Linked DNA regions of Homo sapiens. The protein of the gene in region 2 interacts with the protein of the main gene of each other region in a pairwise test. Each region holds a gene or a part of one and is shown on either strand. Other genes may lie near its edges.

Region 1 (7,327 bases), on a different chromosome or scaffold from region 2:
TGCCCCCTCTTCCTTGGCCCGCCATGCCTGATAGGATCAGTTACGCTCCCAGCCCCCTGAGAAAGCCTGCCCCGGCCCCGCTTTGGGGCTCTATGAGGGTGTCTCTCCATCCCCGCTTCACTGCCACATGCCCGCAGTGTGGAGGTCTGTCTGGGCGCCAGCCCTCCACTTGTCTTGTTGCATCTGAACTCATTTTTACTGTTTGGTGAGCATCCAGCCTTTACGGCCCAGATAGGATGAGGAAGCTAAGGGCTGCTCCAGGGATGATCTTGTCCTGCTCGTTTTGTCTATTGGCATGGCTCTGGGCTTTTCCTCAATGCTCAGACAACCTGGGGGACACCCCAGAACCTGGCGGGGATGCTGGTGAGGGGTGTTAGACTCCAAGGGAACCTGTGACATAGGAGGAGATCCATCCTGAGGAATGGAGCAGGAGGTGGAGATGGGGATAGGAGTGTGGTTGGAGGTGGGAGTGAGGAGATGAGGTAAGGAGGAAGGAGCAGGATGGGGTGGTGGTGATGGAGGCAAGTTTGGGGACGGGGATGAGTAGGAAGGGGGCTGGGCGGGATTGAAGGTGGGAATGGAGATAGGTTATGATGGGGAAAGAGACAGAGACGGGTGGAAGGGTCAGGGATGAGGTTGGAGTTGGGCACAGAGAGGGAGGGAGGGGCAGGGGATGGAGATGAATAAGCTGGAAAGACCCAATGTATTCTGGAACCATGTGGTTCGTGCTTCTGGGAGGCCCTCTCCCAGAGGTCATCTTGTCTTTCCCCAGCTCCTGGAGGTCCTCTCATCCTTCCCCAGCTCCTGGGCATGTTGCCAGCCCAACCCCACCCACCCCAGATCAATGGTTGCCTCTCCACTCAGGAAACCACCTCCTGTGGTCACATAGTCCAGTCAAACTCAACCTAAAATGCTGAGAACTTTCTCTGAACTCTGTCAGTCACTCCTGCTGCAGAAGCCAATCCTGGTTTCCTGAACTCCCCTCTGCCAGCCACAGCAGGGATGGCAGGCTGTGATTTGGAAGGACAGAGGGGAGGGCATACCTGCAGGACCTCGGTCCCCTCCATCCTTTTGTTATGGGCAGATGGGGAGGCAGGCAGAAGTGGACCGCAACTTCGTCAGAATGTGGAGTCAGAGAGAATAAGAGGCGCAGCGAGAGTGGGGCCTTTCTGTCCCTGCCAGCGCCCAAGCAACCAGGGCATTTCATTGTGACTTAGAACAGTCTCTGCCTATGTGCCTGGGCCCTGTGCAGGCAATGGGGGTTCTGCTGGTCCATGAAGACCAGGTGTCAACTCAAGCCAGAAAGGGAGAGGTTAGACATCAGGAAGGACTTCCTAGCTAGAGAAGGTGAAGAGTCCAAGGAAAGAGGCGATATGTTGCTTTCTTAGAGGCCAGATGGGACTGTCTGGGGGATGGGGGGAAAGGAAGGCTTTCCCTGAGGCAACGGATGGCACATGACAGAAGGTGCATGTCACCAGTGGGCTTTCCCCCTTGTCTTTAACTTTCCTAAGCCTTCTCGCGATGAAGCCTTCTCACGGTGAAGACGGCTGTTGGTTGGAGGCAATGTGGCGTCAGTGCGTGGATGAGACAAAGCTGGGGAGCAGGGAGGGGTCCTAAGCCCCCTAATTTTTCTCTAGTTTCCCAGGACCCACTGGTCCAGAAGATTCTGGGGCTCCCTGAGCCCCTGGGAAATAAAGTCCTCTGAGAACTCCCTGGCATTCCCGGGAGAACAGGTTTCTGGCTCTGGGAGTGAGTGAGGCGCCGGGCCTGGGGGTGCAGCGTGCCTCGGCAGGCCCTGGAGCCGGGAGCTGAGCTCGCACAGGCAGCGCGGGCGGGGCGGGGCTGGGCGGGGAGCCGGGAGGACATGCGCCTCTCCCTGTGGCTCCTTCGCCTTTGAGGATCCCCAACCTGGGGCAGCCCTCACCCCGTCTGCCCCTCTCCAGGACTCAGCCTGGCTCTGTCCCTGCCTGGCTCACCCTGGACCCCTCACAGAGCCACAAGAGAAAGGGACCAGGATAGGAGGCCCTGCCCCTTCCCCCATCCACTCGGGGTGCCCTTGTACTGCCTGTGTCTTGTGGTCAGGGAATGAGCAAGATGGTAAAAGGTTCTGAGCCAAGCCCGGTGGGGACAGGACTGCAGTGCAACGCCGCCCTCGGATCCGAGGAACTAGTGTTCCTCAGTGCGGGAGGAAGAAGGCTACCGGGCAAGCAGAGCTGGACCCTGCAGCAGTAAAGACTTCAGAGAGGCTCCAGGAAGGACTTCATGATTGTGAGGAAACTGACCAGATTTTCTCCTTCAGGGATTAGGAAAACTAGGAGGGGCAGCCCTGCCCGATGTGGGCAATGACTGGCATAGGGGCAGGGGATGGATAGGATGACTTCCCAAGATGAGCCCCTCCGCCCGGGTCCCTTCCCACTGACCAGTTGTGCATTGCCACAAAGCACATCCAGACATATCCCCCATGCCTGTAGGTGCCGAGAGAAGAGGCAAACACGCCCACTTGCTAGAGTCTACTCTTCATCCAACGGGCTTCTTTGGATATTTAGGGAGGGCCTGGGGGACTCCACGGGGAATGCCAGAACCTTATCTGAGCGGGTAGTGGGTGGGGAGGAGTCGGGGGAGCTGGCAGGGGCTTCCTGCTGCTTCGGCCACTTCCCTAAGGGCCTTCACTTCCCACGCCCCCAACTCTAGGCCCCAAAGGCCTCAGGGCTCCCTGCCTGGCCCAGCTCTGCTCACCAGGACTCTGCCTTAGGGGTCTTGCGGGAGAGAAATGGAGCTGGGGATAGGAGGCGACTCTGCCCTAAGCCCAGCATCAACTCATGGCCACAGCACCTGTTTGCCACCTGTCTGCTTCGCCACAAGGTGCACCATCTCCTTTCTGCAACCCAGGCCTCTGCATGGGCCCAGGCATCTAGACCCCAGCCCAGGCTGCGTGGAGATGTTGAGCAATTCCTTGATCTGCACACACCCTTGGTGCTCCCCAGCTCCCAGAGCTGGGCTCTCCCTTCTTCACCTGGAAAACCACTACATGGAGAACTTGGCCCCCTGCCTTTCAGCTCTAGTTTTCCAGATCTAACACTTTTGAGTCCTCATTTCCTCCCAGCACAGGGTGGGTGAGCGCATCTCCAACACACAGAGACACACACAAAATCCAGCACACACCAGAATGAGACCCACACCACAGCAAGAGGGATTAAAGTTGGACAACCTAGAAAAGGAACTGGAGGGGGAGGTGGGGGAAGGGGTGCCCCTTGGCCTCCAGGCACTCACCCGAATTCTGAGTCTCCCTTGAGCTGCAGTGAGAACCTGGGTGCTCCCCGTCACTCCTGAGCCCCGTTAAAAAGGCGAACGCCCTCCCCGTGCCCCAGCCCGGCCCTGCTGGCCTCCACGGCTGACTTGGGCCGGGGCTCCTCTTACCTGCTCAGTGAAGCAGGTCGGCGTGGGGGCCCGGGTCTGGGGGGCCAGGAGCTCTGTCCGTCTGTCAGTCCGTCAGCTCGGCCGTCCTGTGTCTGTGCTGACATCAGGTGAGGGGAGGCAGCTGCCAGGTGAGCCAATAATTATGATATCAGCTTCCCCTTGCCCGGAGGGGCTGCGCCAAAACGGGGAGAAGAGAAAGGTGACTAAGAAGCTAGTTTGCTCCTTGGCTCTTGTTTGACAGGTACCGGCTCCCGTGCCCGCCCCAGCCGCACCCTGGCCCCCCAACCCCTCCCTCCTCCTGAGCTAGCCCAGGCCCCCTCCCCTGTCCCTGCCAGTGCGCACAGCCTGTGGCTTGTAGAGGAGGGGGTTGTCCCGTGGCCCCCGCCTGCACTCCAGAAGGGAGATGTCGCCCCCCCACCCACAGGTGGGGCACAGGCCTGTTGGAGCATGCACGTGTGTCAGGAGAGCCTGGCCGCCACATGTATGCTCATGGAGCCCACTCATGAGGTTCTGGGGAACAGCGCTGGGTGGCAGCCCAGGGTTCTCTGAGGCACGGCATGGACAGGTTGGGCCCTTCAAGGGCCAAGCATTAGCACAGATTTGCTGGGAACTGTCTGTCCATGGGGCCGGCCATCTGTCTGTCTCTCCACAGCTCCCGCAGCACCTCGAGGGTGTCTCCTTGTGGGTGGGGGCGTGTGCACCCACTGGAGCATGTGCTGGTGACTCCCATCTCCCTCTCCCTCAGGGGCAGATACATGCGAGTCTGTCTGCATCTCTCCCTGGGTCTGTACATCTGTCTCCTGGGTGGGCGTGTGTCTGCATGTCTTCCCCTGTGTCTGTGTCTCTGTGTCCCCGGACCCAGGCCCGTGTGTCGTCCGTGTGTTGACATGCTCATGTCTGTGCACACGTCTCTGCTGTGGGTCAGCAACCTAGTCCTGTGTGAGCATGTGGGTGTCTGTGGGGGTGGAGATGGGGGCTCCCTGGTTCTGTGTCTTCATCCCAGGCTACTCTTCATTATTTGGAGGATAGAAACAGAAACCTGAGTGGCTGTTGCCCTGGTCTCTGGCCCCTTAGAGTTCATGTTGAGGGTGAAGCCCTAGGAATTGGCTTCCCTGGTCCCAGCTGGACTCAGGCCTGGAGCCTGTCCCTGCTCCCTGACAGCTTTCTCTGCTGTTCCCCCAGACCCTGTCCTCACCTCCTTCTCTCTGCTTCCTTTTCATCTTCTTTGCCCTCCATCCCCTTGTCTCCTGTCCCTGGTCATTCTTTCCCTCCTCCATCTCCCTGACCCTTGCACTGGCCTCTAAGCCCACTTGTGTCTCTTCCTGGAGCTAAAGGCTCTAAGGACCTAGTACCAGCACTGCTGCCCAGCAAGTTCTGGGATTTGGCTTCTGGCCTGAGGGTATGGACAAGTCAGCTCTTCCCCAGTGACTATCTCATTCCAAGGAGAGAGGTAATATCAACCCTGGCCGGGGCACAGTGGTGGTCATCTGGCACAAGTGTGGAGCATGCTAAAACATTTAGAGAGTTCTTAGTGGAGGCGGAAAATGTTCTGTACTAAATATCCATTTCAGAAAAGAGGATGCAGGGGCAGACAGCAATGAACCCATTTGTAAGTGATGGTTAGCTGTGTGATCTTCCATACTCCCCACTCTGAGCCTCAGTTTCCTCATTTGTTAACAAGGGAGTAATACTCACCCACAGGGTGGTTGTGAGGATTAAATAAATTTATATGTCTAAAGTTCTCAGCACAACCCCTTGTATATAGTAGATGCTCAGTAAACAAGTGGCTCCTTTCTCTTCACCAAGGCCAGTGGTGCTGGGAAAGAAATGAGGACGTGCTGGCATGCCCACTCCAGTATAAGAATTGTGTTCTGGGGTTAGGAGAGGGGCCCTGACTCAATCCACCTTTCTCTGGGACTCACAGTAGCAGTCAAAGCTCTGCTCCCTTAACCCTAATAGTCTACGGAGTTTCACAGTGAAAGGGCAGCTATCAAGACCTGGGTGTTTGCTAACTGCTTCTATCTGATGTACACAGAGCTAATTGTTATTTCTAGACTCACAGATATTTCTGTATGGATACTCTGGGCACAGAAAACCACAAAAGTTGTAAGTTGAAGGCTGCCATGGTTGTTATCAATGAACATTATTCTGAAAGCCCCAACCAGTACAATAAGAGAAAGAAATAAGGCATTAATATAAGAAGGAAGGATGCAAAACCTTCAAGAATTACAAATGTTGTGCTTATTTAGGAAATCGAAGAGAATCGACTAAAATACTATTACAACAAATGAGAGAATGAAGTAAGATAGCAGAATATATCAATGTATAAAAATCAAAACCATTTCTATACAGCTAAAACAACCAATTAAAATAGGAGATAGCTGGGCACGGTGGTTCACACCTCAGCAATTTGGGAGGCTGAGGCGGGTGGATCTCTTAAGCTCAGGAGTTCAAGACCAACCTGGGCAACATGGCAACACCCTGTCTCTACGAATAATACAGAAATTAACTGGGTGGGGTGGCACGCGCCTGTAGTCCCAGCTACTTGGGAGGCTAAGGTGGGAGGATTGCTTGAGCCAGTGATTCAGAGGTTGCAGTGAGCCGAGAGGTTTCGGTGAGCCACTGCATTCTAGCTTGGGGGACAGAGTGAGACCCTGTCTCAAAAAAAAAAAAAAAAAAAAAAAAGAAAGAAAAAAAAGGAGACAAAAAGATTTAGCTCACAAAAATAACAATACAAAATATCCAGGAATAAACTTAATAAGAAATGCATGAAATCTACATGAAGAAAACAATACATTTTTACTGACAGACATAAAATAAGACCTGAATAAAAAATAAGGGCATATCATGTTACTGAACTGGAAGGCTGAAAAAAAAAAAAAAAAGTAAAAAAGAAAAAAAAGGCTAGGCATGGTAGCTCATGCCTGTAATCCCAGCACTTCGGGAGGTGAGAGGATCGCCTGATCCCAGGAGTTTTGACACCAGCCTGGGCTACAAGGCGAGAGACCCTGTCTCTAAAACAGCAACAACAGGAAGGCTGAATATAATATTGTAAGGATGTCAGTTCTCCTCTAAATAGAAGCTGAATGTAATTCAAATCAAAAGTCTAAAGGATTTTTTGCCCCCTAAACTTGACGAGTTGATTCTATAGTTTGGGGGAAGGGTAAATACATGAGAATAGCTTGGAGCTTTTTGAGAAAGAAGACTAACAGAGGTAACTTTCCCTGCCAGTTTTCAAAATGTTCAATAAGGCTTCCATAATTAAAGCTGCAACTTTGATACAGAAATAAATAAATTAATGGAAGATAATAGAGTCCAGAATAAACTTGGATATTTGTGAGAAATGGGAATATGATAACAAGGTATTTTAAAATAGATATATAATAGTAGGGTATTTTACTTTATTTTTCTGAGACAGGGTCTCGCTCTGTTGCCCAGGCTGGAGTGCAGTGGCAAGATCATAGCTCACTGCAGCCTCCACCTCCTGGACTCAAGTGATCCTCTCACTTCAGCCTCCCCAGTAGCTGGGACTACAGTTATACCATGCTCAGTTAGTTAAAAAAGAATTTTTTTTTGTAGAGATGGGGTGTTGCTCTGTTGCCCAGGCTGGTCTCAAACTCCCAAAGCACTGGTATTATAAGCTTGAGCCACGACATCTGGACTGTAAAGTATTTTAAAGTAGCAAGTAAAAAATTTAATAAATGGAGTTGGGGCAATGAACTTTCCATTGGAAAGAAATAAAGTTAAATCCTACTTCACACTGTACATTAAAAAATCTAGATGGATTAACAATCTAATGTAAAAATGAAAATCATACAAACAAATAGAAAAAATATAGGAAATATTTTTATGATTATGGAGTGGAGAAAGGCATTTTTAAACATGACATCAAATGCAGAAGCCATAAAGG
Region 2 (6,307 bases):
CCTGGATTCTGTTCTGAGGTTTGCCATTGTCCTAGAGCAGGGTATTCAACTTCTCCAAAGCCCAGTGCTCTCATCTGTGAAAAGGGGGCATCTCCACACCCTCCTCACAGAACTGTGGAGCATGTTAAACTTAAAATGATGCACACAAATTACCTGACATACAGTAGCTACTGAGAAAACCCTTTGTTACACTGTCTAGACAAACCGTGCTTGACCCTTTATACTCTGGAGTCTCCTGGTGCTCAGGTCTATGATGAGACAAAAACACACTCTAGGATGGTTATTGGCAGTTAGGTCCAGCCCAGGGGAGCTGCCCGTTTAGAGAACGCTGGGGCAAGTTGCCTAAAACCTCAGCTCTCCACACCATAAGGTCCATGGTTCCAAGGTACCCATTTCCTCTCCGAACAGAAAGAGTCCAGCTCTTCCTATAAAGACAAATCATGCTGTCCCTCCTAAGAGCTGCAAGCAAGGATAGAGACAGAGCAAGACACACGCTTTGATCCAGGATGTTCTGTGATGTTTATAATTAGAAAAGTTGCTCGGAACAGGATAGAACCTTGGGAAGGCTGATGGGGAAGCAGTCCAGACTAGGCTGGACTTTGAAAGAGGGCCCACAGGAAGGAAAGGAAAGGTGGGGCAGGGGGCGGCGGTGTTCTAAGTCCCAAGGCAGGTTGCTAGGAGGGGTGCTGACTCAGGCTGGAGTGTAATCTGGAAACATCATCTTTGCCCAGTCCCTGTAGGGCTGGGGCCCACTGGGCAGGTGTCCCCAGGGCTGTGAGACATCTTTATGAAGTTCTCCAGGTGGCTGTTACAGGCAGTGGGCATTCTCTGGCTGTCACTGGGTCTTCTGCAGGTCCTCAGGCCCAAAGGAGGAGGGCAGCAGCTCCTGGACCGTCATGACAATATACGTACCATCCGGCTTGGTCATGTACACGGGCCAGTTGGTGCCAAACTGGAAAAGAGGCAAAGCTGGCGTGAGAGACACAGCGTGGCTGAGGGGGCTGAGACGGACTGGGTCTGAGTCTGACTCTGCCACTGTCTAATGTTCCTCTCTTTACCTTGATTTTCTCATCTGTAAAAGGGGAATGACCATAATTGTACCTGGATCATAGTGCTGCAGGGAGGAGGAAACGAAAGAATGCTGTGAAACTGAACAGTGCATGGTACATCGTGAACAGGCACCATTCAAGACTCACCCAGGGCTTTATAAGAGCAACAGCTAACCCCTGGAACCTCCTTCTGCTATGACAAATGACAACTAACACCCGCTTCCCTTCAGTATCCCCTTTACACCTCACACCAGGAGAAGCTGCAAGCCTGCTACATATACTCAGTGTATTAGTCTGTTCTCAAGCTGCTAATAAAGACATACTTGAGACCGGGTAATTTATAAAGAAAAGAGGTTTAGGCCGGGTGTTGTGGCGCACGCCTGTACTCCCAGCACTTTTGGGAGGCCGAGGCAGGCGGATCTCCTGAGGTCAGGAGTTCGAGATGAGCCTGGCCAACATGGTGAAACTTCATCTCTCCTAAAAATACAAAAATTAGCCAGGCGTGGTGGCAAGCACATGTAATCCCAGCTACTCAGAAGGCTTGAGGCAGGAGAATCTCTGGAACCCGGGAGGCAGAGGTTGCAGTGAGCCAAGATCACACCACTGCAGTCCAGCCTTGGCCATAGAGCGAGACTCGGTCTCAAAAAAAAAAAAAAATAAAATAAAATAAAAAAGGAGGTTTAATGGACTCACAGTTCCACATGGCTGGGGAAGCCTCACAACCATGGCGGAAGAGGAAGGAAGAGCAAAGGGATGTCTTACCTGGCAACAGGCAAGAGAGGACTTGTGTGAGGGAACCCCCATTTATAAAACCATCAGATCTCATGAGACTTATTCACTATCACGAGAACAGCGTGGGAAAGACCCGCCCCCATGATTCAATTGCCTCCCACCAGGTCCCTCCCATGACATGTGGGAATTATGGGAGCTACAATTCAAGATGAGATTTGAGTGGGGACACAGCCAAACCACACCACATAGATACTGCACATGCGTGGTTTCATAATCTACCCTGTGAGGTAGGTGCTATCATGATGCCCATTTTACTGATGAGGAAACTGAGGCTTAGCAGAGTAAAGTCAGCAAAGAAAAATTTGTCTCTTGATCTTTCTCCTATACTATGAGGAGCACTGTTTGTTTGCTGTGTGACCTTGGGAAAATGATAACTTTCTGGGGCTCACTCAGTGTCTTGGTCCATGGAATGGTTTTAGGGATGGGAGAATGCAGGATGGTAGGCAAGAGGTTAATCAGCAGCGGTGTCATGACAAGAGCCCTGGAGGTGGGGTCAACAGACCTAAGCTCTTTCTGGCCAGGTATTCTGAGATGCAGAGATGATTCATGTAAAGCATCTCTATGCACATAGTAGGTGTTCAATTAATAGATGCCATTCTTATTGATTATGTTGGTAGCCAGTGACTGCTCAGGTCTGCAGCCTCCTGTTCTTCCACACTTCTCTCTGAATCACCAAGTTATTCCCGGGCACACTCAATCTTCTGGCTTTTTTAGAATTAATGTTTTAAGGAAGGAAATTTTTCTGCTTGACAGGCTGTGCCTAAGGGTAGGTACAGACAAAAGTTGAGCCGAGGGCGAGTTTACGTGTCAGGTCCCTGGCCCCAACGCCTCATCTCTTATCATTTGCATTTGGTTTCAGTTTCCCCCCTGCCTCCTTCAGCTTTTTCATTTGCCTTCTCTCGTTTGCCAACATCCAATCTGTTTGGAGAAAACAGCACTGAGCAATTGGACCACGTCGGGGCCTTGGGAGCCAGGGACTTGGCGCCCTGTTGTGGCTTCCTTATATGACCTTCGACATTTCCACCGTGCAGGGCAGCTATTTCTGCCCCTCTCAAGTGAGACAAATTCCACCGTGTAAATTCACTGCTTTCCCGGTGGTATGTTTTTGGATTTGGGAAATGTGTCTGATTTGCACTCCTGGCAGGAAGCAGGAGGAAGATGGAAGTGTCTGCATCCCCAGATGCTTTGAAACCCCACGGCACAAAAACAAAGCTAAAACAACCCCCTTTCTCCCAAAACACAACTCCAAAAGCAGAAACTCCCACGGTACAAGCAGCATCCACATGCCAAAGTACCATTATGTTTCCTCCATGGTTGAAAATAATTTTGTCCAACTTACAGAACCACAAAGACAGAGAGGCAGCCGTGAGGAGCACGGGCTTCAGAGTCAGCCTGATGGGCCATGGATACCCATATGTCACCGCCTGGCAGGGGGCCCTTCAGTAAGTCATTTTACTCCTCTGAGCCTCAGAGTGGTCACTGGGAAATGGGAATAACGACATGCATTTCACTCAGTCTTGGGGAGGGGATTAAACAAGATGCTGTAGGTATGTATTTATTTTTGAGACCGGATCTCGCTCTGTCACCCAGGCAGGAGTGCAGTGGCTTGATCACAGCTCACTGCAGCCTTGACCTCCTAGGCTCTAGTGATCCTCCTACCTCAGCCTCTGGAGCAGCTAGGACCACAGGCGTGCACACTATGCCTTGCTAATTTTTAAATTGTTTGAAGGGACCGGGTTTTACTATGTGGCCCAGGCTGGTTTTGAATTCCTGGGCTAAGGTGATCCTCCTGCCTCAGTCTCCCAAAGTGCAGGGCTTACAGGTGTAAGCCATCATGCCCACAAGATGCCGTATTTCGAGGGGCTCTTGATATTATGCTGGAGCTCAGGGCCTGTGGGATTCTCTAATCTTTTGGGACTCTAGAGGACACAGATCTCTTTGAGAATCCACAATAGTTACTGACATTCCCCTTTCCCCAAACGTACATATAAACATGAAAACCTTCCCCTGAGCCTGGATTAAGAACCCATGATCTAAACTATCCCTTCGTTTTCATTTTTTTGTTTTGTTTTATTCCTTTTTTTTTTTTTTTGTGGAGAACAGGGTCTCGCTATGTTGCCCAGGCAGGTCTCGAACTCCTGGACCCAAGCGATCCTCCTGCCTCTGCCTCCCTAATTGCTGGGATTACAGGCTGAGCCACCATACCTGGCTTACCGTTTTGTTTTTAGAGTTGAAGAAATTGCAGCCTTCCATCAAGAGGACTTTTATAAAAAGTCCTTCAAGTTTCTTCTTGAAAATATCCAATGGCTTACCTTTATTCCCTTTTTTCCCAATGTATATAATGTGATAAAATATATATAATGTAAGATTTGCCATTTTAACCATGTTTAAGTGTACACTCCAGGCTGGGCGCGGTGGCTCACGCCTGTAATCCCAGCACTTTGGGAGGCCGAGGTGGGCAGATAACAAGGTCAGGAGTTCAAGACCATCCTGGCCAACATGGTGAAACCCAGTCTCTACTAAAAATACAAAAATTAGCCGGGCATGGTAGCTGGCGCCTGTAGTCCCAGCTACTCGGGAGGCTGAGGCAGGAGAATTGCTTGAACCCAGGAGGCGGAGGTTGCAGTGAGCTGAGACTCTACCACTGCACTCCAGCCTGGGTGACAGAGTGAGACTCCGTCTCAAAAAAAAAAAAGTGTACACTTCAGTTTCCTTTATTCTTGGAATAAAATGTACCCTTCGTTCCATGGCCAGGCCCCATGTGATCTGGCCTCTGCCCACCCCTCTGACTTCAATCCCATTGCTTTCCTTCCACCTACCAGGCCCTAGCTCTCTAGCCCTCGTGGCCTTCTTGCCTCTTCTCAAATTCACCAAGGGTCTGAACTTGCTGGTTCTGAATCTCCTTTTTTGACCTTTGTCTGTCTCATTTTTTTCCTCATTATTTATATTTCTGCTCAAATGTCATGCTCAAAAAGAGGGCCTTCCTGGATATCTAAAGCAGGGGTTGGCAAACCTTTTTCTGTCAAGGACCAGACAGTAAATATCTTAGGTTTAGAGGCCATGTGGCCTTTGTCGTAATGGCTCACCTCTGCTGTGTCAGGGCAAAGTGGCTATGGACAATAGGTGAATGAATGGCCATGGCTGTATACCCATAAAACTTTATTTACAAATACAAGCAGCAGGCTGGATTTGGCCCAAGGGCTGTTGTTTGCTGACCCCAATCTGCAGTGTCCCCTGTTTGCCCGTTTGTCACTGGACTCCTTTTTTTTTTCTGCATTTTGTTTTCCTCTATAGCCCTCTTGACTCAGAAACGCCACTGTTTGTTTATTTATTTTGCTCCTTGTTTATCATCTGTCTCCTGCATTAGCCTATGAGCTCTGTGAGGGCAGGGCCTGGCCCATCTTTTCCCTGTGCCTCCCCAGAGCTACCTCAGGGCCTGGCACAAAGCAGACACTCACTCGGTAAGTATTTGTTAAATGAAGGAATAATTTCCAGTGACTCATGCAAGCGTAGGGAGGCCTTAGAAGTCAGCCAACCAAGCAAACAGGACAGTAGCTGTGTCTCCACGCCTGCCATGCCTGCCATGCCTGCAACTTGGCGTGGCTCCCATAGCCTGCGACAGGGAAGATATTTGCATTCCAGACAGCAAGAGAAGCTGCTTACCTCTCTCATGACTTGCCTGCAGGCCCCACATGGAGAGATAAAATCATCTTGCATGTCACTGGGGAAGCAAAGAATCAAACTCAAATTAGTCTCTCCCAAGGACTGAGGACAATTGCTAAGATTCAGGCCCTGAGACTCGGTCTGTTCCTGATTTGGGTCATACCCCATCAGGCAGTTCCTGATTCACAGATCCACTGTGTCCTGAAGGCTGAGAAGGCCACGTGGTGGCTTTCCACACTGCCACAAGGCAGGGCCATGGGCAGGACTTTCATTAGTGCCATCCATAAACGTTTACTGAGCACTTACCATCACCCACACCCGGGAATACAAAGGTCAAAGAGAATTTGTCTCTGTTATGTAAAAAACCAGCTGAGTTATCATGTTAAACAAAATGCAGCTGGGCTTGGTAGCTCACGCCTGTAATCCCAGCACTTTGGGAGGCCGAGGTGGGTGGATCACCTGAGGGCAGGAGTTCGAGACCAGCCTGGCCAACGTGGTAAAACACCGTCTTTACTAAAAATACAAAAATTACCCAGGCTTGGTGGTGGGCGCCTGTAGCTCCCAGCTACTCAGGAGGCTGAGGCAGAAGAATCGCTTGAATCCGGGAGGCAAAGGTTGCAGTGAGCCAAGACCGTGCCATAGCACCCCAGCCTGGGCAACAAGAATGAAAATCCTTCTCAAAAAAAAAAAAAATTGCAGAAGGAACACACAGTATGAGGGAGCTCATCCCTGCCTGTGGACTGAGAAGGAAGATTTTATGGAGGAGGAGGCATGTGTCCTGGTCCTTGGAGGAAGTGTAGAGT

The links. Proteins that work in one complex are often made in the same cells at the same time.
Region 1: the proteins of CDA (region 2) and FOXN1 interact in binary tests that used the Homo sapiens proteins (3 or more experiments, as listed by UniProt).

Annotation. Positions count from the first base shown.
Region 1 is NC_000017.11:28,502,534-28,509,860, reverse strand, and holds the start of FOXN1 (forkhead box protein N1), read right to left. Parts: upstream 3,514-7,327; 5' UTR 3,418-3,513; intron 1-3,417. UniProt on the Homo sapiens protein: Transcriptional regulator which regulates the development, differentiation, and function of thymic epithelial cells (TECs) both in the prenatal and postnatal thymus.
Region 2 is NC_000001.11:20,613,097-20,619,403, reverse strand, and holds the end of CDA (cytidine deaminase), read right to left. Parts: intron 5,563-6,307; coding exon 5,505-5,562; intron 953-5,504; coding exon 836-952; 3' UTR 501-835; downstream 1-500. UniProt on the Homo sapiens protein: This enzyme scavenges exogenous and endogenous cytidine and 2'-deoxycytidine for UMP synthesis.